Homo sapiens: one gene and its partners. The protein of the gene in region 1 interacts with the protein of each later gene in a biochemical or structural test. Each region holds a gene or a part of one and is shown on either strand. Other genes may lie near its edges. The genes, in order: FZD8, SDCBP and LRP6.

What was found.
Region 2: the proteins of FZD8 (region 1) and SDCBP interact in far-western blotting, tested with the Homo sapiens proteins (one study listed by IntAct).
Region 3: the proteins of FZD8 (region 1) and LRP6 form a complex in vitro, tested with the Homo sapiens proteins (one study listed by BioGRID).

What each region holds. Positions count from the first base shown.
Region 1 is NC_000010.11:35,639,297-35,646,837, forward strand, and holds the start of FZD8 (frizzled-8 precursor), read right to left. Parts: upstream 2,432-7,541; 5' UTR 2,134-2,431; coding exon 49-2,133; 3' UTR 1-48. Other genes in the region: zinc finger protein 469-like, read right to left, coding at 2,432-3,117, 3,334-3,550. UniProt on the Homo sapiens protein: Receptor for Wnt proteins. Component of the Wnt-Fzd-LRP5-LRP6 complex that triggers beta-catenin signaling through inducing aggregation of receptor-ligand complexes into ribosome-sized signalosomes.
Region 2 is NC_000008.11:58,577,155-58,583,359, reverse strand, and holds the end of SDCBP (syntenin-1), read right to left. Parts: intron 5,328-6,205; coding exon 5,152-5,327; intron 3,738-5,151; coding exon 3,566-3,737; intron 2,844-3,565; coding exon 2,752-2,843; intron 1,675-2,751; coding exon 1,620-1,674; 3' UTR 502-1,619; downstream 1-501. UniProt on the Homo sapiens protein: Multifunctional adapter protein involved in diverse array of functions including trafficking of transmembrane proteins, neuro and immunomodulation, exosome biogenesis, and tumorigenesis.
Region 3 is NC_000012.12:12,263,996-12,271,667, forward strand, and holds the start of LRP6 (low-density lipoprotein receptor-related protein 6 isoform b precursor), read right to left. Parts: upstream 3,050-7,672; 5' UTR 2,741-3,049; coding exon 2,686-2,740; intron 1-2,685. UniProt on the Homo sapiens protein: Component of the Wnt-Fzd-LRP5-LRP6 complex that triggers beta-catenin signaling through inducing aggregation of receptor-ligand complexes into ribosome-sized signalosomes.

The DNA of each region.
Region 1 (7,541 bases):
TCTCCTCGCCCCCCTCCCCACCCCTCCTGGGCGCCCCCTCCCCTCCGCTCAGACCTGGGACAATGGCATCTGCTTTGGATAAGACACGGAGCTCGCCGTGCCCGACCGCCACGTCAGGCCAGTGCTGACGTCGCTGTAGAGGGAGCCCCCGCCGCCGCCCGGCCCCCCGCCGCCGCCGGGTCCCCCGCCGCCGCCGCCCCCCGGCCCGCCGCCACCCCCCGCGGCCGTGGCGCCCGCGCCCCCGCCCACCGCGGCGCCCTTGCTGGCCCAGCAGCAGCGGGTGCACAGGGAGCGCCAGGACTCCAGCGTCTTGCCGGACCAGACCCACACGCCCGAGGTGATGCCCACCACTAGGCACATGAAGTACTTGAGCATGAAGACGGCGTAGTCGGGCCTGCGTGCCTGGTCGGGCTGCAGGTCCCGCAGGCACGGGCAGTTGTGCGTGGCCTCCCAGCGCGGGCGGTTGTGCTGCTCGTAGAAGAGGCAGGCGACCACCACCGCGGCGGGCACGGTGTAGAGCACGGTGAACAGGCCCAGGCGGATCATCAGCTTCTCCAGCTTGTGCGTCTTGGTGGGGCCGTCCTGTTGCTTGATGACCGAGCGGATGCGGAAGAGGGACACGAAGCCGGCCAGCAGGAACATGGTGCCGATGAAGAGGTAGATGACCAGCGGCGCCAGCACGAAGCCGCGCAGGTTGTCCAGGCTCTGGTTGCCCACGTAGCAGATGCCCGCCACCGGGTCGCCGTCCACCGAGCTGAGCGCCAGCACCGCGATGGACTTGACGCTGGGCACAAGCCACGCGGCCAGGTGGAAGTACTGCGAGTAGCCGGCGATGGCTTCGTTGCCCCACTTCATACCGGCCGCCAGGAACCATGTGAGCGACAAGATCACCCACCAGATGGAGCTGGCCATGCCGAAGAAGTAGACCAGCAAGAAGACCACGGTGCACAGCGCGGGGCCGGTGGTCTCGTAGCGCACGTGCTGCTCCACCGCGCCCAGCTCCTCGTACTCGCCGCGCCCGCCCGGGCCGCCCGCGCCCGCGCCCGCCGCGCCCGCGCCCGCCGCCGCGCCGCCCGCGCCCCCAGCGCCCCCCGCGCCCGGCGCGCCACCGCTGCACGCCACCTTCTCGTGGCCCGCCACCAGGCGCACTAGGTAGCCCACCGACACGAAGAGGTAGCAGGCCGAGAGGAAGATAATGGGCCGCTCCGGGTACTTGAAGCGCTCCATGTCGATAAGGAAGGTGGAGACGGTGGCGAAGGTGGACACGAAGCAGAGCACCGACCACAGGCCGATCCAGAAGACGGTGAAGGCGCGCTCGTCCTGGCTGAAAAAGGGGTTGTGGCAGGGCAGCGCGCAGTTAGCGATCTGGCCTGTCTTGACGCGGTTGTAGAGCGGGTGGCGCTCGCTGGACACGCTCACCATAGGCGCGCGGCACTGGCACCCGGGCTCGCAGGGAGCCGCGCCGCCGCCAGGGGGCCGCGCCTTCCCGCCACCGCCGCCGCCGCGAGCTGGGGGCGCCGCCGCGTCCCCGCCGCCACCGCCCCTGCCGCCGCCGCGGTGCGGGGGCCTGGCCCCCGGCGGGCGGCCGTGGCCGCTGCCCGAAGGCGGCTGCTCGCCGGGCGGCGGCGGCGGCAGGCGGCGCGGCGGGCTGGGCGCGGCGGTGGTTAGGTCGGTGCGGTTGTAGTCCATGCACAGCGTGTCAGGGTTGCCTTGCTCGGGCAGCCGGTCGCAGCGCATGCGGTCGGGCCAGGCGAAGCCGTACTGGCGCATGAGCGGCGCGCAGCCGGCCTTGGCGCGCTCGCACACCGAGCGGCAGGGCGGCAGCGGCTTCTTGTAGTCCTCTAGGCAGATGGGCGTGTACATGCTGCACAGGAAGAACTTGAGATCGGGCGAGCACTGGATCTCCACCAGCGGCCAGAACTGGTGCACCTCCAGGCCCGCCTCGTCTTGCGTGTCGTGGTTGAACTGATTGGGCATGTAGGTGTAGTTGTAGCCGATGCCCTTACACAGCGGCACGGTGATCTCTTGGCATGCCAGCTCCTTGGCCGAGGCGGCCGCAGCGCCGCTAGAGCGCTGCAGCAGCGCCAAGGCGGCCAGCAGCGAGGTCACTTCCAACAGGTAACCCCACTCCATGCTGTGCGCCTCGGCCCGGTGCCCTCGCCCTCCAGGCGGCGCGCAGAGGGGTGCCGGGGGGGGGGCCCACGAGAGAGCCGCAGACGGGTACAGCGGGTGATCTGGGGTCTCCCTTATGCTTCGCCCGGGAGGGGGGTCTGCCGATAATCTAACCCCTTCTAGGGGCGCGTCCGCAGCGGCGCGGCCCGCAGCCTGGGCAGGGCCCTTCCGCACTCCTTTCCGCCGCTCCGGGGGTTTGAAGGCGGCTGCAGGCGCGCGCCACAGTCCGTAGGTCCGCTCTGCTGGCCCCGGGTCGCGCTCAGCCCTCGCGGCGCAGAGCGGCCGGGCCTCGGCTCATCGTCCCGCGCTCGCTCGCCTCCTCTCCGCGCGCCCGACCACTTCTCCCCGCCGCGCCGGGCGGCGGTGACTCCGCCGGACAGAGAGGGCGGAGGCGCCGCAAGTTTCCTCTGGGGCCGCGGTGCGCAGTCAAGATGGCTGGGCCGGGCCGCTTGCCGCGCCGGGTCAGCCCTGGCGGCCACCACTCGGCCCCCGGGGGCTCATGCCCGCCCCCAAGGCCAAGCCGCCGCCGCCGCCGCCGGAGTTGGGGACCCGCCTCGGCCCAGGCCGCCGCCCTCTTTCTCCGGCGTCCGTCCTTCGTCCGTCCGCCGCCGGGACAGACGGACCCCCGCCGCCTGGAAAAGTCAGCGCCGCGCTCCGGCCGCAGTCGGGCGAGGTGCACACAGTCTCCTTCCTGCTGGACACCCAGGAGCAAATCCAGACCGGAAGGCGGAGCGGACACCTGAGTGGCGCGGCCCGCGCCCAGCCGCCGCCTCCTCCTCGGCGGGAGCAGCGCCCTTAGCCCAACTTCCCGGCTCCAGCCCCGCTCGCGCCGCGCTGCCGGCTCATGAATATTTATACAGCGCGGACTCGGTCTCCGCCCCCAGCCCCGCGAGCCAATCGCCGGGCGGTAGGGCGGAGTCCACGCGCTCCCAGGGCTCAGCCTTCCTTAAGGCAGTCCCCGAGTGTCCGCACTGCTGTGCGCGCTCTCTGCGGATGGAGAGTTTTGGTAACCTTGGGATTGACCGCAGAGACAGAGTGTTGGCCATGGCTGTCCCCATGGCGCTGAGTGCGTCGGAGGTCTTGGTCCCCTTACCCCGAGTCTGCCCTTGGGGACAGGGACGGGGTTTGGTGCAGCGCGCGCCTCCCCGGCGCGTTTCAAACCAGCCAAGCCCCTGCTGCCACCCTCCGCAAATGTGGGTGATCTGCAGGCGGCTGGGGTCTCGTGCTCCTCGGGGCGGCAGGAAGGTCTCGCAGCAGGCGAGCGCCGGGGAGGCCTGCCGGGGCTCGGCGCTGCAGAAGACCCGGGAAAGGGTGTCCTCCTTGGGGTTCTCAGAACGATGGTTTCTGAGACTTGGAGATGTGGGGGGTGTGGAGTCATTCTAAACTGGGGCTGGACCCGGGACGGCCCGGGTGAGATGCCCCGGAGCCCAGCCTTGGGCGCGCGAGGGGCGCGGGGGACAAATGCCCGCCAGAGACTCTCCTCCCGCCTCCGCTGCGTGACCTGGGGGAGCCTCAGTTTCCCCACCTAGAGAGTTGGGTGATCATAGCACAGATCTCCAAGGGGGCTTTGATAATTAGGTGAGATAAAATATAGGAAGCCCCGAGCCGCCGTGCTTTCTTAGGAAAAATCATTCAATTTCTTTCTAAAATTCAAAACAAACCTCGAAACTTATAAATAGGACAGGCTGGAAACTCTGGGGCTGGATTCCCTGTCTTCCCTTCGTTCTTTCAGGACGTCTATTCATCCATCCCAAGTTCACAGGCTTTTGCCAGAGCCTCCTTTTCTCTGGTGGGAGGCGGCGCTGCGCTCTGGCGTGGACTCCGCGACACGTATCTGCTCTCTGCACGAGGCCGGAGCCGGACCCGGGCTGCTTTTAGCAGCCGCTTGGGCCACCGCCAGCGAACGCTGCCCCCGCCGGCTCCGCCGCCACCTTAAGACGGGCCGGGAGGGGGGCTGCGGGCGGCCCGGGCCGGCGGCCTGGCAGGTTCATTTACGCTTGTTAGGGCGTCCCAGGGGGCTGTCTTTCTCCTAGAATGGAGTGTTTATTTTTTAATTGATGTGCTGTTTCATTTAGCGCTTGTATGGAACTCATGCTGGGGCAGTAATTACTGTAATCTCGGGAACAAGCATTTCAGTTAGCCAGGAGGGTGGCAGAATATGTTTCTCTCTCTCTTTCTCTCCCTCCCTCCCGCCTCCTCCCCATCTCCGTCCCCCTCTCTCCCTCTTCCTCCCTGCCTCTCTTCTGTCTTCCCTCTCTCTCTCTCCCCACCTCCTTTCCTTCTCTCTCTCCCCCACCACTTTCTCTCCCCCCTCCTCCTCTTCCCCTCCTCCCTCTCCTTCCTTCCCTCCCTTTTCTCTCCGCTCTCTCACTCTCTTCTTGTTTCAAGATTTTTGCTATTTGCCAGGTTTCATACCGGAACAAGTACAGTTGGAGAACAAAAGTTGCAGAGGGCGTGGGGACAGAGCAAAAGAATTAAAAGTACATTTGAGGCCAGTTCCGGTTTTCGGGGCGCTGCTGGTGGTGGTGGTAGCTCGTGGTTGTCCGTTCAGAAACAACTCTTGTCATAAAACAAAAATAACCAGCAGTATTTGTAGATTGCTTGAGCTGATGGCATCTATGTCTTCCTCCTCCTGCTTTCTGTAGCTCAGTTAGCAACCTCATTATGAAACATATTACAAGTAGACTGTCAGACCGCACCCTGCCCCAGCGCCCCGTTTTTGGCAAGTTCTGTGTTCTAGGCATATCCACCAATCTATAGTTATACCCCCCTATCTTTTTAACTTTTTTAGTTTTAGTCTATAGAGTTGAACCTCTTTATACTGAAAAACAACACTTCCTTCCCACTTTTGTTTTGGAAAAACTAAAGTCCGTAGGAATTCGGAATTCAAAGGCTTCAGAAATATTAGCTGATTCAGCAGAAAACGGGCTATTCAAAAATACAGACTAGACCTTTACTTGATTAAAAAATTTTTTTTCTTTTCTCACCTCCTGCAAATCGGAATTCCCACTTGTATGTTGAATGTAGAAATTCACTATCTCTGCGGTTGGCACCTTGTTTCCAGAGGGCGAGTCTCCAGAACGCATCAGCTGCAGGTAATTGCCAGAGGTTCCAGTGCTGATCTGAGGGCAGCGGTGCAGGCAGAGCCCCAAAGACCAGCAAGGGTGCTGCACTGCCCGCACCACAGATGGGAGGGGCTGGTTTCCAAGAGCAACACAGATGGTGAAAAGTTTCTGTTGCTTTTCTTCCACGGGGAAATGTCAAATAGTGAAGTTTAGAATTACACTACATAAATTTGCTAGAATTGGGTAAAAACAAACTGACATTTGAAAATTGAAATTGAAGCTGAAAATGGTTGATTTTGGCTCTTAATTGGCTTTAAATTTTTTTTCTTTTTTCTTTTGAGACAAGATGAAAAGTTTGATGATGTGGAATGTGGAAATTTTGGGTAAGTATGTTAAGTTTGCATGAGAAAATAAGCAGACTGAAGTTCAGAATTTCAAAAATCATATCAGCTATTTGGGAGATCTTAGTGATTTGTGAGGTTAAAACCAGTTACATAAAAGTCATGACAAATGTACTTTTAATTGAGAGAATATAAGAATCGCATTTTACATCTACTGTTAAATTAAACGGCTACTTGGTAGTCTTTCAGAGAAGGGAGAGACTTCTGTAGCCAATTAGTGCGTAAAAGGTAATGATGGGTTACCTAGAAGTAACCAGAACATATATCAACTTCTATGGCTAAATAATGATATTTTCATTGTATGTAAAGCAGCTGTTTTTTAGGGGAGGGGAAATAGCTTTAGTAGTGACATAAATAATGTAGGGAAGTTTCTAAAGGGATTTCTGAGCAGATGGCTTGTTGCTGAATGGCCTGCAAGCAAATAATGTAAACAGTTGGAATCAGGAATCTACCTCAGAGGAGGGAAGGTTTTACAAAACGTTGGCTACCGAGTTAGACAGGGGACTATCAATACTGTCTGTAACAAATTTAAGAAACTTTGGGGAAATCATGTTCCAGTGGATTACCATCTAAAAATCCAATATAAGAATCTGGATGGAAGAGAGAGCCTGGCATATACTAACAGAATGATACGTTCCAAAGATTAAATGAGGAACTCTTTGGTAACTAATACAATTTCTCAGGTGTTATAAACTGCCAAATATTGGCCAGATACGGTGACTCATGCCTGTAATCCCAGCACTTTGGGACGCTGAGGCAGGCAGATCGCTTGAGTCTAGGAGTTCGAGACCAGCCTGGGCAACATAGCAAAACCCTGTCTCTACAAAAAATACAAACATGAGCTGGGTGCGGTGGCATGTGCCTGTAGTCCCAGCTACACCAGAGGCTGAGGTGGGAGGATCACTTGAGTTTTGGAGGCTGGGGCTGCAGTGAGCCATGACTGTATCACTGCACTCCAGCCTGGGCAACAGAGTAAGACCCTGTCTCTAAATAAATAAATGCCAAATATTATTTTCTCTCAAGAAAACAGTTAAGTACTATATTATTAGATAATATAAAATTCTTATCACTGGCTGGGCTCAGTGGCTTACGTTTGTCTTAGTGCTTTGGGAGGCCAAGGTGGAAGGATCGCTTGAGGCCAGGAGTTGGAGAGCAGTCTGAGCAACATAGTAAGACCCGAGTCTACCAAAAAAAAAAAAACCAAAAACAAAACAACAACAACAACAAAAAAAACAACAAAAAAACAAGGCCAGGCACGGTGGTTGTTCACGCCTGTAATCCTAGCACTTTGGGAAGCCGAGGTCAGAGGATCACTAGAGGTCAGGAGTTCGAGACCAGCCTGGCTAACATGGGGAATCCTTGTCTCTGCCAAAAATACAAAAATTAGCTGGACATGGTGGTGGGTGCCTGTAATCCCAGCTACTTGGGAGACTCAGGCAAGAGAATTGCTTGAACCTGGGAGGCAGAGGTTGCAGTGAGCTGAGATTTTGCCACTGCACTCCAACCTGGGCAACACAGTAAGAGTCTGTCTAAAACAAAAAAAAAAATTAGTCGGGCCTGTAGCACGCACCTGTGGTCCCAGCTACTTGAGGCGCTGAGGTGGGAGGATCGCTTGAGTCCATGAGTTTGAGGCTGTAGTGAGCCGTGATCATGCCTGTACTCCAGGTTAGGTAATAGAAAGAGACCCTGTCTCAAAAAAAAAAAAAAAAAAAAAAAAAAGACAAAACCCACAACAACAATAACAAAACCTCTAATGGTAATATTGGGGCATCTTGGTGTTTTAAAAATCTGCCTTTCAAAGGGTTATGTCTTGAGTCTCTCAGTCCATAAATGGAAGGGGAGGTAGAGGTGAACTGGCCTCATCAATCTCTGCTAGCTTTAAACAGGTGAGATTATTTTTATA
Region 2 (6,205 bases), on another chromosome or scaffold:
AATATTTTTTTCTCTTCTAAATTTCAAACAAGGTAAGCTGTATAGCAGTAGCAGATTTCCTTTTATATTCAACCTCTGAACCATGGTAAGTGTGTGACTTATTATTTTTTCTATACTCTTTAAAAACATTGTTGTATCTTGCAGGTAGTATGACATAGGAGAAAAAACTTGAGTCAGACCACACTAATAGAATTTCCAAAGTCAGTTTCAGTGTTATTAAATATTACCTGGTCTCAGGTATTGCTAGGGACAATCAGTAGCCTCAATGAGTTCCTGCTGCATGGCAGGTGTGAACCAGCTCTTCTTTTGGCCCTGGTAATCTGGGGTTCCCAGCTGGAAGCAATTTTCCTGACACTCAGTCTCAGCACTGAGAGCTGTTCTTAGGGCCCCTGAATGTCAGCTTGTTCTGGGAGATGATGTCTCCCACAGCTGAAAGTGAATTTCACCTGCCTGTCTTCTAGATCATGCATAAGTTTGGTGAAAGCAAATGATGCAGTAATAGACAGACTAAAATGTAACTTTATTTATACATATTTAATTAGAATAGACATAAACCAAAAAGAAGAAAAAAATCAGGATAAAGTGTCAACTATCATTTTGTTTGCAAGGAGGAGTCAGGAAAAGGAACAAGTTATCAGAAAAATATTCTAAGACCATCCCAAAGTAGCTAGGTTACATAATCTTAAGAGTCAAATGCCAAAATTAAGTATTATACCACTTAATCCACAAATGAACAAAAGGGGAGTCAAAAGTTTATCCTGTTTAGTGTAATAACTTTTACATCACATATAGTGATTCACTTCTTAAAAGTGGCACTGGCAACTTTTAGAAGAAAGAAGTTTCCATTATGTGTTGACTAAAAAATCTCAAAAACAACTAAGCAGCTATGCTATAGCTCAGTAAGTACCATTAAACTGTTCTGGGCTAGTGTACATTTCAGGTTAATAGAGAACTACATTTTGGGTTTTTAGAAAGGCAGCAATAATTATATTTTGGCTTTTAGTCTAGATGCTTAACATAGTTAAGGCGACAGTTCAAGCATATTAAGTGAAGGTAGTTAAAATTTAAGAATCATCACAATCTCTTGAAACCTACATACACTGTTTAATGCTTACATGGAATGAAACCAGTGTTCTTAATTGGCATTTTACACACACACACACAGAATTTAAAAAAAAAATCAAAGGCAATCATTCTAAATGTACTATGATAGCATGTTAAAGATGCAAGTATGCTATAGAACTAAAGTAATATGAACAGCACTACTCATTACCTAGGAGAAAGGTGACTGGTTTTCACACAAAGCTAAGCCTGTAACAGTCATCCTAATCACAATGGCTTATAAAAGCATCAGGTTTCCAGTAGAGAAACTATTCTAGGAAAGTCAGTAAATCTCTTGAAAGTTTCACATCTGTAAAACCAGGATAAGGCTACAACTATTTTGAAATCTGAACAAGGTATCAGATGAAAGAGTAAGATTCCCAGCCATAATGTAAGATAGAAAGGTCCTCATGCAGCATATGCTCGCTGGCTCCGGGAAGGCTTCACGTGCATAATACAGAAGTTGCCAAAGAAGGAAACTGGAGACGTTCAGCTACATTTCCATGGTGCCGTGAATTTTAAACCTCAGGAATGGTGTGGTCCATTAGGCTTTTCATAATGCTTGGTGCCATCCTACAAGAGAGGTACTTTTATTATATACCGAGATTCTGGTTTTTGTTTTTCAAAATGCTACATTAATCCAAGAAAATTCCCAATTCCAATTTAGCACCTGTTAGCATCAAATATGAATGGAGAGAAGGGAAAGATCTTTTAAATGAGTCCAGAAGCATCTCTGGTAATCTAGTTGTTGACAGACACTCAGTGGGAAAGACTATCTGTATTTGGCTAGAGAAGTTAGGATACAAATGAATTCCTGTGCATTAAACATGGTGATTTTTAAAAAACAGAAAGAAAATGACAAGGCTGTGATGAGTTGGGGTAGAGGGATCCATCAGTGATTTAAGAAAAGAGAACCCTAGAAAAATTAGTCATGACAATAACTCCTTTTTACCCCCTCCAAGGGTAGCTAGGTGCATTCTATCCAGAAGCCAACACAAAAATTTCATTACAATGGTTATGTTTATGAATCTTTTAAATCTCATTTTCACATGCATAATAGAGCTTCTGAAAGGATTCCAAGCTGGCTTGACAAAAACAGCTATGGTAGATGCTAGGATATGAAAAGCTCTATAGAAGGAACCTTGTTGCCTCTTTTCAGTTCTGATCACTTGGCTTTCTAATCCTCAGTTCCTGAGCACAGATAGCACCAACACACCACACTTGTCTATCTGCCTCTTGAGATTCTGGAGAGAAGGGAAACTTACTCTTAGCATTCCACCAGCAAGAATTCTCCATTACGAACCACCACAACTATATTTATACTGAGCAGAGGGGTGGTAGGCAGTGCAACTGCAGTCAATTGCACTGCAAATTGAAAGCTGAAAGCATGCCCACTTCTCCTTGCATACCTTTTTTCTACCAGGCATTATAAAAACTGAGGAAAGTATATGTGAATTTTATTCCGTACTTGGGAAGTTGTAAGAGCTCATCCTTACCAACCCTCTGATTTAAATAACTTACTTCAAATTTCTAGATAAAACACCAGTATCCATTCCTTGGGTAAAAGAACCAAAGGGCTGAGAATTAAAGTATAGTGCTTATATTAAGTCACATGACCATATGCATTAAGTTGAGGAATTGTTTACTTACCGCTTAATAATATGTTCAAAGATAAAAGCAGGCATGATTGTAATAGTAACTACAGTCCCAGATGTTGACAGTATGTCTGCAATTTGAGAGTCCTGATAAAAACACATATTAAAAATTAATTCCACAGAGGCTTTATTTAATAAATACAAAACTATGCCAGTCTTGGTAAAGAAATACAAAATATATGTCTTGGTATTTCTAATTTTTTCTAGTATTTCTTACCAAGTTTAATTGTACACTATTTTACAGCTAGTAACCAAATTGCTTAAGTAAACTGAGTTGAATATTTTAACCAAAAAAAAACTTTTCCTTTCTGAATATTAGATAATTTTCCCCATATACAATATTACCATCTCCTCTTATTAACTGTGTATTCTAAATCAAATTCTATGAAATGAGGAGGTCATGCTTAAAACTTTTTGACCTTAAGACAGACTTATTTAGGAATTTGTGGAGGAGAAAAACTATAAAAATAAAGTATTAATATGAACCAAAACTATTATTCATTTCCTTATATTCCTGGATTGAGAAATGCTGGGCCACTATTCATATTCTAAATCTTTGTTGCCCATATTTCCACAGAATTCTAGTGTGAGGTACTTCTGAGATCATTTATTCCAGCCCACTTGTTATAGGAACTGTAGTTCTAGATGACAGCCCAAATAATTCCGGTGACTGGCCAGACCAAGAGTTCAGGCCCCACGTTCCCCATCTCCCACCTAAGTCAATATGAAAACAGCGCCACCTAAATACAGTCAAAAGACAGACATTTTCTAAAACTGCAGCAGAACATGGCACAAAGTCTGTTCCTTACCTTCAATCCAATGACATTCTGTCCATTGATTTCACAGATGTTATGTTCCGTGAGAAGACCATTTCTGGCTGCAGAGCTATCTTTCACTATGGATGTTATTTTTCCATTTTTAAAGATAAAACCAACATGTCCAGTGCTATCCTTATGCATGGTAATCGTCCGTTCAAAGGGCCTACAAACATAATTGGTTCAATTAAAAACTTAATTCTAAGCTAAACATTTTAATGGATTTCATATAGCATAAATGTTGCCATATTGGATACTTTTATAATAAACACTGTTTCTAATAAGAGCAACTTATGGCTCTGATTTTATACATTCACGGAACATCTTTGTGTAAAAGTTTTTTTTAAGTTTATTCATTATGGTTTGACTGATTTACTAATCAACATTTCCTTCTTTAAGTATAAAAGACAACTGCTTTATATGGTTTTATCAATATGTTTTTCTTTTATAATTAGACTTTACAGCATTAAGAATGACATAGGCTTTTTAACTAAATCACAGTGGTAAAGATAATTTTTATTTTTTATTAACTTTTGGTATTTTCTAGAGCCAAATCATTTTTAGGACTATTTCTTTTATTTAAAACCTTTAAAATATTTCTCACATCTTGATTTTGAAAATTTTATACATTGCTATCTTTGAAAAGAAAAACTAGAGCAGCAGTAAGACTTAAGTTCCTCAAGCCCCTTTGGAAAGGGAGGCATGCAGCTATTATTAAAAGGCATCCAGCTGTCCCTCTAGAGTTGTTATAGCAGTCACATTTGCTTGATTCTCTATAAACTCTGTTATCATGTTATCATAAGGGTTTTAGGATCAACTTGTGTTTACATTATTAAATTCAGAAGAGGCATTTCTTCCTGTTAGTACAACTTACTCTTTGAAACTCTGCTTAGATAGAAAGTAAAAAGGACATTCATCTGAAACATTTACGAAATACCTAAACTGAATGAGAAACTGGAAACACAAAGATAAAACAGAAGTTTCACTGAGAAGGAACAAAAACTCAAAGCTTACTGTAACAATGCAATATACGTCTACCCTTAATTGGGTATGGAGTAGACAAGAAAATAAATGGAGGCCCCTATTTCATGTGCTAAATGTTTAAGTTCTAAATGAATGAGCTGCTAAATAGAATATTCCATGTTCTTGAAAACTACTGCTTCATAACTACCCAAAAGTCTTGATACGGTTTTCAGAACTCCCATACTACTTGGAAGTCTGCATGGGCTCTGACCCTCACAATGAGGGACCACTGTGTGTGAACACCCTAGGCTGGATGTATCTAAGCAGTAAGTTGGAAAGTGAGCCCAGAGATGCCCTGCAACTCAGTTACTTCTCCAACATACGTTTTCTATTTTCTAGAGAGATTTGTCCTATAAACTCTGAAATAAGGTATCGTATCAGAATGCTTTAAAAACAATGTAAGAAAAATCTGCACCACACAACTGCAAGACTATAAGGCTCATCAATAACATTTGATCATTTTCTGCAACAAAATAATATACTCACAAACTCTGAAAGCCCAAAAAAATGGAAAACTAGTATTGAATTTTCATTTGAGCTGTTTAGTAACAGCTTACCTGTCACGAATGGTCATGGTAATCTTCTCTCCAAAAGCCTGTTTGAGCACCTTGTGCGCTTTATCAGAGCTCCATCCTGCACAGTTTTCACCATTGATCTGAAGTACTTGGTCCCCAAATCTCAGACCAACCAATGAGGCTGGAGAATTAGCCTGGACTAGCTGAACAAATATACCCTAGATAATAAGAAAATAATTTTTGTCATTTACCACTACTATGATACGGTTTTAAACGCTGGAAAATTAGGAAACAACTGTTTATGTTGAAAACTCTACCCCAGTGACAAAAAAGAAAGAAAAAGAAAAAAAGGAAAAACTATATGAGTATATTAAGTTATCACCTCAAAAGAAACTGAAAAATTTATCAAGACAGCAACTCCAAAGAATAAGGCAAAAAAGTGAGATTTCAATGGCAATTTCTATACCAAATCATGACCCACCTGACCAACCACAATCCCCCCCTTCAACTTGGAATACAAAACTAAGGAAAATACAGTAGGACAACTTTAATAAATGCAAGCGTCTGAGTCTGATAGAATACCAAATTATCAGTACATAATCATATTTAGGGGAAAAGCGAGTCACATGTTAGAAAGTTTGATGAGTTCTTTTACAGCTTAATAAATGACAGTTTAAGGTCATAATTCTACCTTTTGAGCTGAAGCATTCCTTTACCCATTTGCTAAATTGTGTATAATCAAGTAAGATTAAAGTTTATTTGTTAGACTAAAAAGATGGGCATATTAAATCCACATGCACAGGCTTATAAAGAACACACAATGAAATAAATACAGAAAACTCAAATACTGTTAACCAATAACTACACTCACATGGATATTTTTACTTATGTAAAATCTCAATCAGAAGTTGAACAAAATATAAATAGGTAAGTATAAAAGAAGAATAAGCCTGGTAAAATATAAGTGCATCTACTTCTACAATCCTAAGCTAGGTCACATATTTCTATCACACATCTGTTACATTGTAGAATGATAAGCAAGAACTAGGTAGCACCCCATAAATGAACAAATGCCCTTTGGCCAAGTGAACAAATC
Region 3 (7,672 bases), on another chromosome or scaffold:
TGGGGGCATAGTGGCACGTGCCTATAGTTCAGAGCTTTGGGAGGATGAAGCAGGAGGATCACTTAAGCCCAAGACTTTGAGACTGCAATGAGCTGTGATTACACCACTGCACCCCAGACTGAGTGATGAAGCAAGACTTTGTCTCTTTAAAAAAAAAAAAATTGTGAACGTTATACAAATTAAATCTCAAATCATGAAAGCATTTGAGGATATGTCCCTGAACAAGCAAAAATTATAGCAAAAAGTAACATTAACAAGGTACTCCATATTATTTCATTTAAAACACCCAATAACCCTGCAAACTAGTCAGGTATCATTATCCACACTACCAGTAAAGAAACTGAGACCTAGAGAAGCGGACTAGACCAGAACCACAAAGTTATGAAGTTGTGACACTTGGGCTTTAAATCCAAGATTTTAGTATTGAAATTCCCAAATCTTTCCTTTATACCTTGTCATGTGATGATAGAGATAGGGACACAGCACTAACAGTATTCCCTGGCTTTCTGCTACTAATTCAACAGGGCTACAGGACAGAAGGTCTCCCAGACTCTCACATACCCCATCACACCCAGCCAATGTTAAAGCCCCAATTCTTTGTGGGGGAAAAAAATGACCTAAATGCAACAAATCAATCAGATTTTTCTCCTTGGAGTCCAAGGTTGACTAAATATCTTTACTATAACAGAGGATGACATTCTCAAAGAATGAATTAATTCTAAATTATGAACAAAAATATTTTACATCAAAAGACAGTTTTACTTCAAATAATATGTACTCACAGCTAAGTACAGTACTGTTACATATTAGAAGACCACCTTACACCATATTTCGCCACATTTAAAACGAGAGCTCCACTTCTGAAAACTTTGCTAGTGGAAACGAGACAATTTAAACTATTACCTCTTCCAGGTCTTGTTACATAAATAAGTGCAACCTATCTAAATTCCAATAATGAACAAACCCAGCTCTGGTCTCAAAGCTGGTGTTAAACAAACGGCATTTACATCACACGCTTCTCCTCCAAGAAATACAACTAGACAACCAGAAACATCCCAAGTTATAAGTTTTCCCACGACTCTAACCAATCAGCTGGTTCTCATATTTGTCAGCCCTATTAACCTTATGTCTTAAAATACATACATATTCTTATGTCAAATATAGTTGTTTCTAACAGCTACAGCAAAACCCCTTTCAATAGAGTATGCCAATAATAAAATAAGTATATACTTATGAAACCTCTCCAGTACGTAACACTTCATTAAAATTTCTGCCACAAAAATCTAATGAACACTACCTTTCCGGGGTTTACATGTGGGAAAACTTTGTAATATGCTTAGAGTATCAAGTAATATAACATGCAAACACAATGCTGCATTACTACAGAGTAACTGAAGAAAGTATTTCTCCTCCTCCAAAAAAAAACTCAATCATTCTCATCCGAAATACATATACACAGTACACGCAAAAATATACACCTGTCACAGACTATTAGTTACTATTAGTGTTCTGTAAACTTAAATTAGTTTGGAGAACTTAACAAAAGTTTAGCTTGTTAACACCTAAAAATCTCCAGCGACCAGCGGTCACATGCCTGAAAAGAACTTACTATGAACGCCAGTAAGAACTTTACCAAACCAAAACTACAAGCCACCGTATCGAGCAGTACTTAAATTCCTCTGCTGGTAAATGCTCCACAGCCATCACAGCCATCTCAAGTTCAACACTAAATAGTTTGAGAAGAGCTGCCGACGGGCCAGTCAAAAATCTTTGTGAACTGTCACAAAAGTCACAGAGCATGTGTCAGCTTTGCAGTCCAATTCAAAACATCATAGTGCCATCGAATTCAAGCGATTCCCAGAGCAAATTATCTCGAACAGCCTATGCAATTTACCAAAGTGCCAAGCAGTCCCCAGGGGTGCAGAGCAAATTATCATTTTGGTCCCAGGACCGGCTCCTCTTCACACGAGGATGAATTTCCCTACTTAGTGCCAACTGTACACTTGCATACTCCGAAAATAGGGGCAAGCCGTGAATACCAGAGGTTACAAGGGCAATGTTTTATTTTATTATGGGCTGAAGCTCAGAAGGCTCCCAATGCTGAAACGCTCGACCTATAACCCCGGAGTCACTTTCCAACTGCGCTCTCACCCAGGGTCATTATATCCCAAACGGAAGCCAATCATTACCTGTAACAAGGCCTGGAAAAAATAGCAAGAGGGCTTTAAAAGTTCACCTAAGAAACACCGAAACGGGGTGGGGAGTGGGTGGCGGGGCTTCGATGGATAAGGCCAACCTTAAAGCATCTCGGACTCAAACATTTTAAAAGCCAAAATACGTACAAAGACCCTTTTCCCTGGAAGACCCCAGGCAGAGAGAGGCACACAGACACTCAGTCATCCCGACAGCATGGGGTGCCAAGGGTTCCCTAAGACCAGCAGCCGGGATCGAAGCTCCGATGTGTCCGGGGAAGGTCTGGGAAGCCAGGCCAGGTCCGCATTGTGGCCGGGCGGTGCACGCAGCCCCTGCTCCCGGGCCCCTTTCTCTCCCCCTCCCCACGACCAGGCCTCTCCCCGCTCCTCTCCCCTTCTCCCTTCCTCCGTCCCTCCCCTCCCCCTAGACACATACAACAAGGCCACCTCCCCCCGAACCCCACCAACTTTCCAGTGCCCCCACTCTTCCCACCTCTCAGGAGCACACAGAAGCTGCAGGCCAGGAGGCTCCTCAGGACGGCCCCCATCTTCCCTTCTCGCGTTCTCTTCTCTCACCGGCGAGGGGTGGCCAGAAGTGGGGGAGGCGAGGAGCCGGGGCGGCCGCCGCAGCGGCAGGGCTGCACGCTCATACTTCCCAGCTTCCCAGCGAGAGAAGAAAGAAAGGGGCACGTCAAGGTTCCGCGCGCGCCGCCGCCGCCCTCTCTACCGCGCCGCTCGGCCCCGGGCTCGCGCGACGCCAGCGTCTGCTTCCATCCCGCCGCCTCCTCCCCCGGCGCCCCGCTTCCCCCGCGCAGCTCCTCATTCAGCCTCTGCCTCGCGCAGCGGCGCAGGGATACGGTCGGCACCGCCTCCTAGGGTCGCCGCGACCGTGTCCCTGCGCGCAACGAGCCCCTTCTCCCGGTACTGCCTCCTGTACGGCCAGGGAAGGGAGTCGGCAACCGCACGCACAGCCTCTGCCTGAGACCCTGGGAGAGGTTCTGGGCTAGCAGAGGCGAACTGGGAGGGAAAGCCTCCTCCCGGTGGCGCATTCCAGCGGGATTCTTTCCCGGACCGGCCGCTTCGGCCCTCCCCGCGGAGGGCGTGAGGCGGCGTTGAACAACATTGGAGCCGGCGTGGTCGGGACTACTTTCTGCGGCTCGGCCGGGCAGCCGTCTGCCCCGCTCTTTGTGCGGCCGCCGCCGGCAGGGCCAGGTGGGGCTCCGGTCTCGCGCCCCCAGCCACCTGAGACTGCCCAGCCGCGGTGCACGCGCGGGGAGCCACGGCGGATCCCGTTGCGGGGTGATGAGCTCCGTCTTCGGGGTTGGAAATCGGTTTCAGCATCCTTTTTTTGGGAGGGCGGAATTTTTGAACGCTGTTTACACCGGCTTTCAGCGTGGATCTGGTGAACGATATTAAAACGCCAATTCAAAACTGAGATTGTCATTTTTCTCCCGCCTTCCCAGAAATACAAACTGCCCCCAGAATTAAGCCCGACCAGCTAAAGATTTCTAAACTGGCAGATAAAATTCCAAGATAAATGCCTCAAAACCTAAGAGCAAAGGGACAATTGGACAAGACTATTTAGGATTTTACAAGTTGCATATAATAACGAATGTTTGGCATGCTTCGATTATCAATTCTCAGCTTGAGAAGGAAAAGATTCCCTAGAATCTCAGACTGTGCACAGCCTCTGCTACTCCCAGTGCATTGGGCATTCAGGAGTAATGGCCCAGACGCCCCCTGAAATCACCTGCCAGGCTTTCGTCTGGGCAGAGGCGCTCCAACAGTTAACCCTAATGGAGCCATCAGATGCATCCTGCCCAGCTGTCACACGCCCTTACCTGGAGGCAGATGGGCAAGAAAGTGGAGCTGCTACCACAATGTTAACAAGTACCTCAGTGACATTGGAGTTCACTAGTGCTTGAACACAAGTTATCATATTTGACACTCAAAACTACCCTGGGGAAAGGCAGGTTTTGTTACTTATTCTTTATTGCACAGAGGAGCAAAATGAGAACCTGAGAGGTTAATGACTTACCCAGGGCCACTCAAGTAATGAATAGCAGTACCTCAGCCCAATCCAGGTCTCTGACTTAAGCCACTCCGCTCCTTCCAAGAAATGCGCGCTGAACCAAAGGTGCTGCAGGTTTGTAAGTAGATGGACAGCAGAAACAGCCAAATCACTTTCTCCCAAATTCACCTGAGGTCTAGTCACCGTTTATTTAAATGACCTGCTTCTAAGAACCAAGTGAGTTTTGTATTCTGGCTTCCTCAAAGCAGGAAACTGGGCCGGGGGCGGGTGGCTCAGGCCTGTAATCCCAGCACTTTGGGAGGCCGAGGCGGACAGATCACGAGGTCAGGAGTTCGAGACCAGCCTGGTCCAACATGGTGAAACCCCCGTCTCTACTAAAAATACAAAAAAAATTAGCCGGGCATGGTGGCACACGCCTGTCATCCCAGCTGCTCAGGAGGCAGAGGCAGGAGAATGGCTTGAATCCAGGAGGCGCAGGTTGCAGTGAGCCGATATCGCGTCATTACACTCCAGCCTGGGCAACAGAGCAAGATTGCGTCTCAGAAAAAAAAAAAAAAAGAAAAGAAAGTTAACCTTCACTTTCACAGGCCCCTTCCAATGTCTGGGGAGGGGCCTTTATGGTATGTTCACATGGTCCTATTTGCAAAACAAAGATAATTTTGAATTCCTCTTCTGTATAATTGTATTATACAAAATTGTATAAGCTTCAAGTCCCACAAAGCCTGGATCTGTCCCTATTTATAATAGAAAATGCGGTACAACTGGCCGGGCACGGTGGCTCACGGCTGTAATCCCAGCACTTTGGGAGGCCGAGGCAGGCGGATCACGAGGTCAGGAGATCGAGACCATCTTGGCTAACACGGTGAAACCCCGTCTCTACTAAAAATACAAAAAATTAGCCGGGCGCGGTGGCGGGCGCCTGTAATCCCAGCTACTCAGGAGGCTGAAGCAGGAGAATGGCGTGAACCCGGGAGGCGGAGCTTGCAGTGAGCCTAGATAGCGCCACTGCAGTCCAGCCTGGGCGAAAGAGCGAGACTCCGTCTCGAAAAAAATAAAATAAAATAAAAAAGAAAATGCGGTACAACCTAAATCTCCTCAGACTATCAACCTAAGTAGGGGAATGAGATATTACACACTGCTGAAAAATAATAATTTAGAGGATTATGCAACAGTGTTGAATGTTTATAGTGAGTTAAGCTTTTTTTTTTTTTTTTTTTTTTTTTGAGACGGAGTTGTGCTCTTGCTGCCTGGACTGGAGTAAAATGGCACAATCCCGGCTCACCACAACTTCCTCCTCCCAGGTTCAAGTGATTGTCCTGCCTCATCCTCCTGAGTAGCTGGGATTACAGGCATGCGCCACCACACCCAGCTAATTTTGTATCTTTAGTAGAGACGGGCTTTCTCCATGTTGGTCAGGCTGGTCTCGAACTACCGACCTCAAGTGATCCGCTCTCCTTGGCCTCCCAAAGGGCTGGGATTACAGGCGTAAGCCACCGCGCCCGGCCGAGTTAAGCTTTTAAAAAGTGAAAGTGCATGTACATTTGATTATAGCTATGTAAAATAAAAATATATATAATATACAAACATAAATGCACACACATATATATAGCACATATTTGAGCAAAGACCAAAAGTAAGTGCACTAAAATAGGCATTAGGATGGTGAAATAATATGAGATGTAGTTTGCTTTTCTGTTCTTCAATTTTGTTTAATGTACTATATATTTACTACAAATTTTTAAAAGATGCTTAAGTGAAAATCTATAGGTTAAGCTTAAGCCCTAGAGAGAATGCCATTATTACTGCATAACTAATTTTGTTTCTCATTCTTTTAAGTGCCAATCAGATACCAATCACTCTGTTAAGTGTTGGGGATATAAAGATGAGAGTAATCATAGTCCCTACCCTCAAGAAGCTTACAGCCTAGTTTGGAAACACTGATTAATAAAGTGAGTAATTAAAATATTAAAATCTGCAGGGCACAGTGGCATACAACTGTAATCCCAGCACTTTGGGAAGTCAAAGTGGGCAGATCACTTGAGCCCAGGAGCTCGAGACCAGCCTGGGCAACATGGCGAAACCCCATCTCTACAAAAAATACAAAAATTAGCTAGACATGGTGGCGTGTACCTGGAGTCCTAGCTATTCGGGAGGCTAAGGTTGGAGGATCACTTGAGCCTAGGAGGCCAATGCTGCAGTGAGCTGTGATCTTGCCACTGCACTCCAGCCTGGGCAATACAGTGAGACCCTGTCTCCAACTAAAAAAAAAAAAAAGACAAAATTGCTAAGTGTAGAGATGCTTTTCTGCCTAGACAATTCAAAGAAGGGAAAAAAGGGCCAGGCGCAGTGGCTCACAACTTTAATCCCAGCTACTCACGAGGCTGAGGCACAGGAATCACTTGAACCCAGGAGGCGAAGGTTGCAGTGAGCCGAGATTGCGCCCCTGAACTCCAGACTGGGCAACAGAGTGAAACTCTGTCTCAAAAAAACAAAACAAAACAAAACAAAAGAAGGGAAAATAACCCTAGCGCTGAGGTTGGAAATACAAATCAGACTTTGCCAGGCCAACAAGACTGAAAAAAAATTTCAATCACAATAGTAGGTTTAAAGACACTGAATCATTAGAGAACTTAGTATGTTGGGGATTTGAAAGTAGATTCATATAGCTGATGCATGGAATGCTTTTAGAGAATGTCAGGAATTGAGGCAGGACCATTAAATAGCTATTGATTAATAAAAACCTTTTCAAGCCATGCTAAGAAGTTTAGATTTTAGCATATTAACAATGCGGACATTGAAGAATTTTGCACATTGTACAGAAGTCTATGAAAGGGGCAATCAGGACAGCAGCGCTGAGGACTGAAAAGACATCATGGATTTAAAGAATACGAGATTAAAACAGGACTTTTAGTTGTGAATTGAGAGAGAAACAGAGAGTAATGGGAGTCTCCTTTACAAAGAAAAGAAAACCTAAGAAGTATTTCAAGAAGGAGTGGGTAATAAGTTTAACAATGGCTCTTTTGTATTGGAGGTGTCTATGAAACATCCAGGTGGAGGCCGGGCGCGGTGGCTCACGCCTGTAATCCCAGCACTCTAGGAGGCCGAGGTGGATGGATCATCTGAGGCCGGGAGTCCGAAACCGGCACGGCTAACATGGTGAAACCCCATCTCTACTAAAAACAGAAAAATTAGCCAGGCATGGTAACACGTGCCTGTAATCCGAGCTACTCAGGAGGCTGAGACAGGAGAATTGCTTGAACCCGGGAGGCGGAGGTTGCAGTGAGCCAAGATCACGCCATTGCCACCCAGCCTGGGTAACAGAGTGCGACTCTGTCTGAAAAAAAAAAAAAAAAAAAAAAAGGCCGGGCGCGGTGGCTCACGCCTGTAATCCCAGCACTTTGGGAGGCCGAGGTGGGCGGATCACGAGGTCAGGAGGCCCAGACCATCC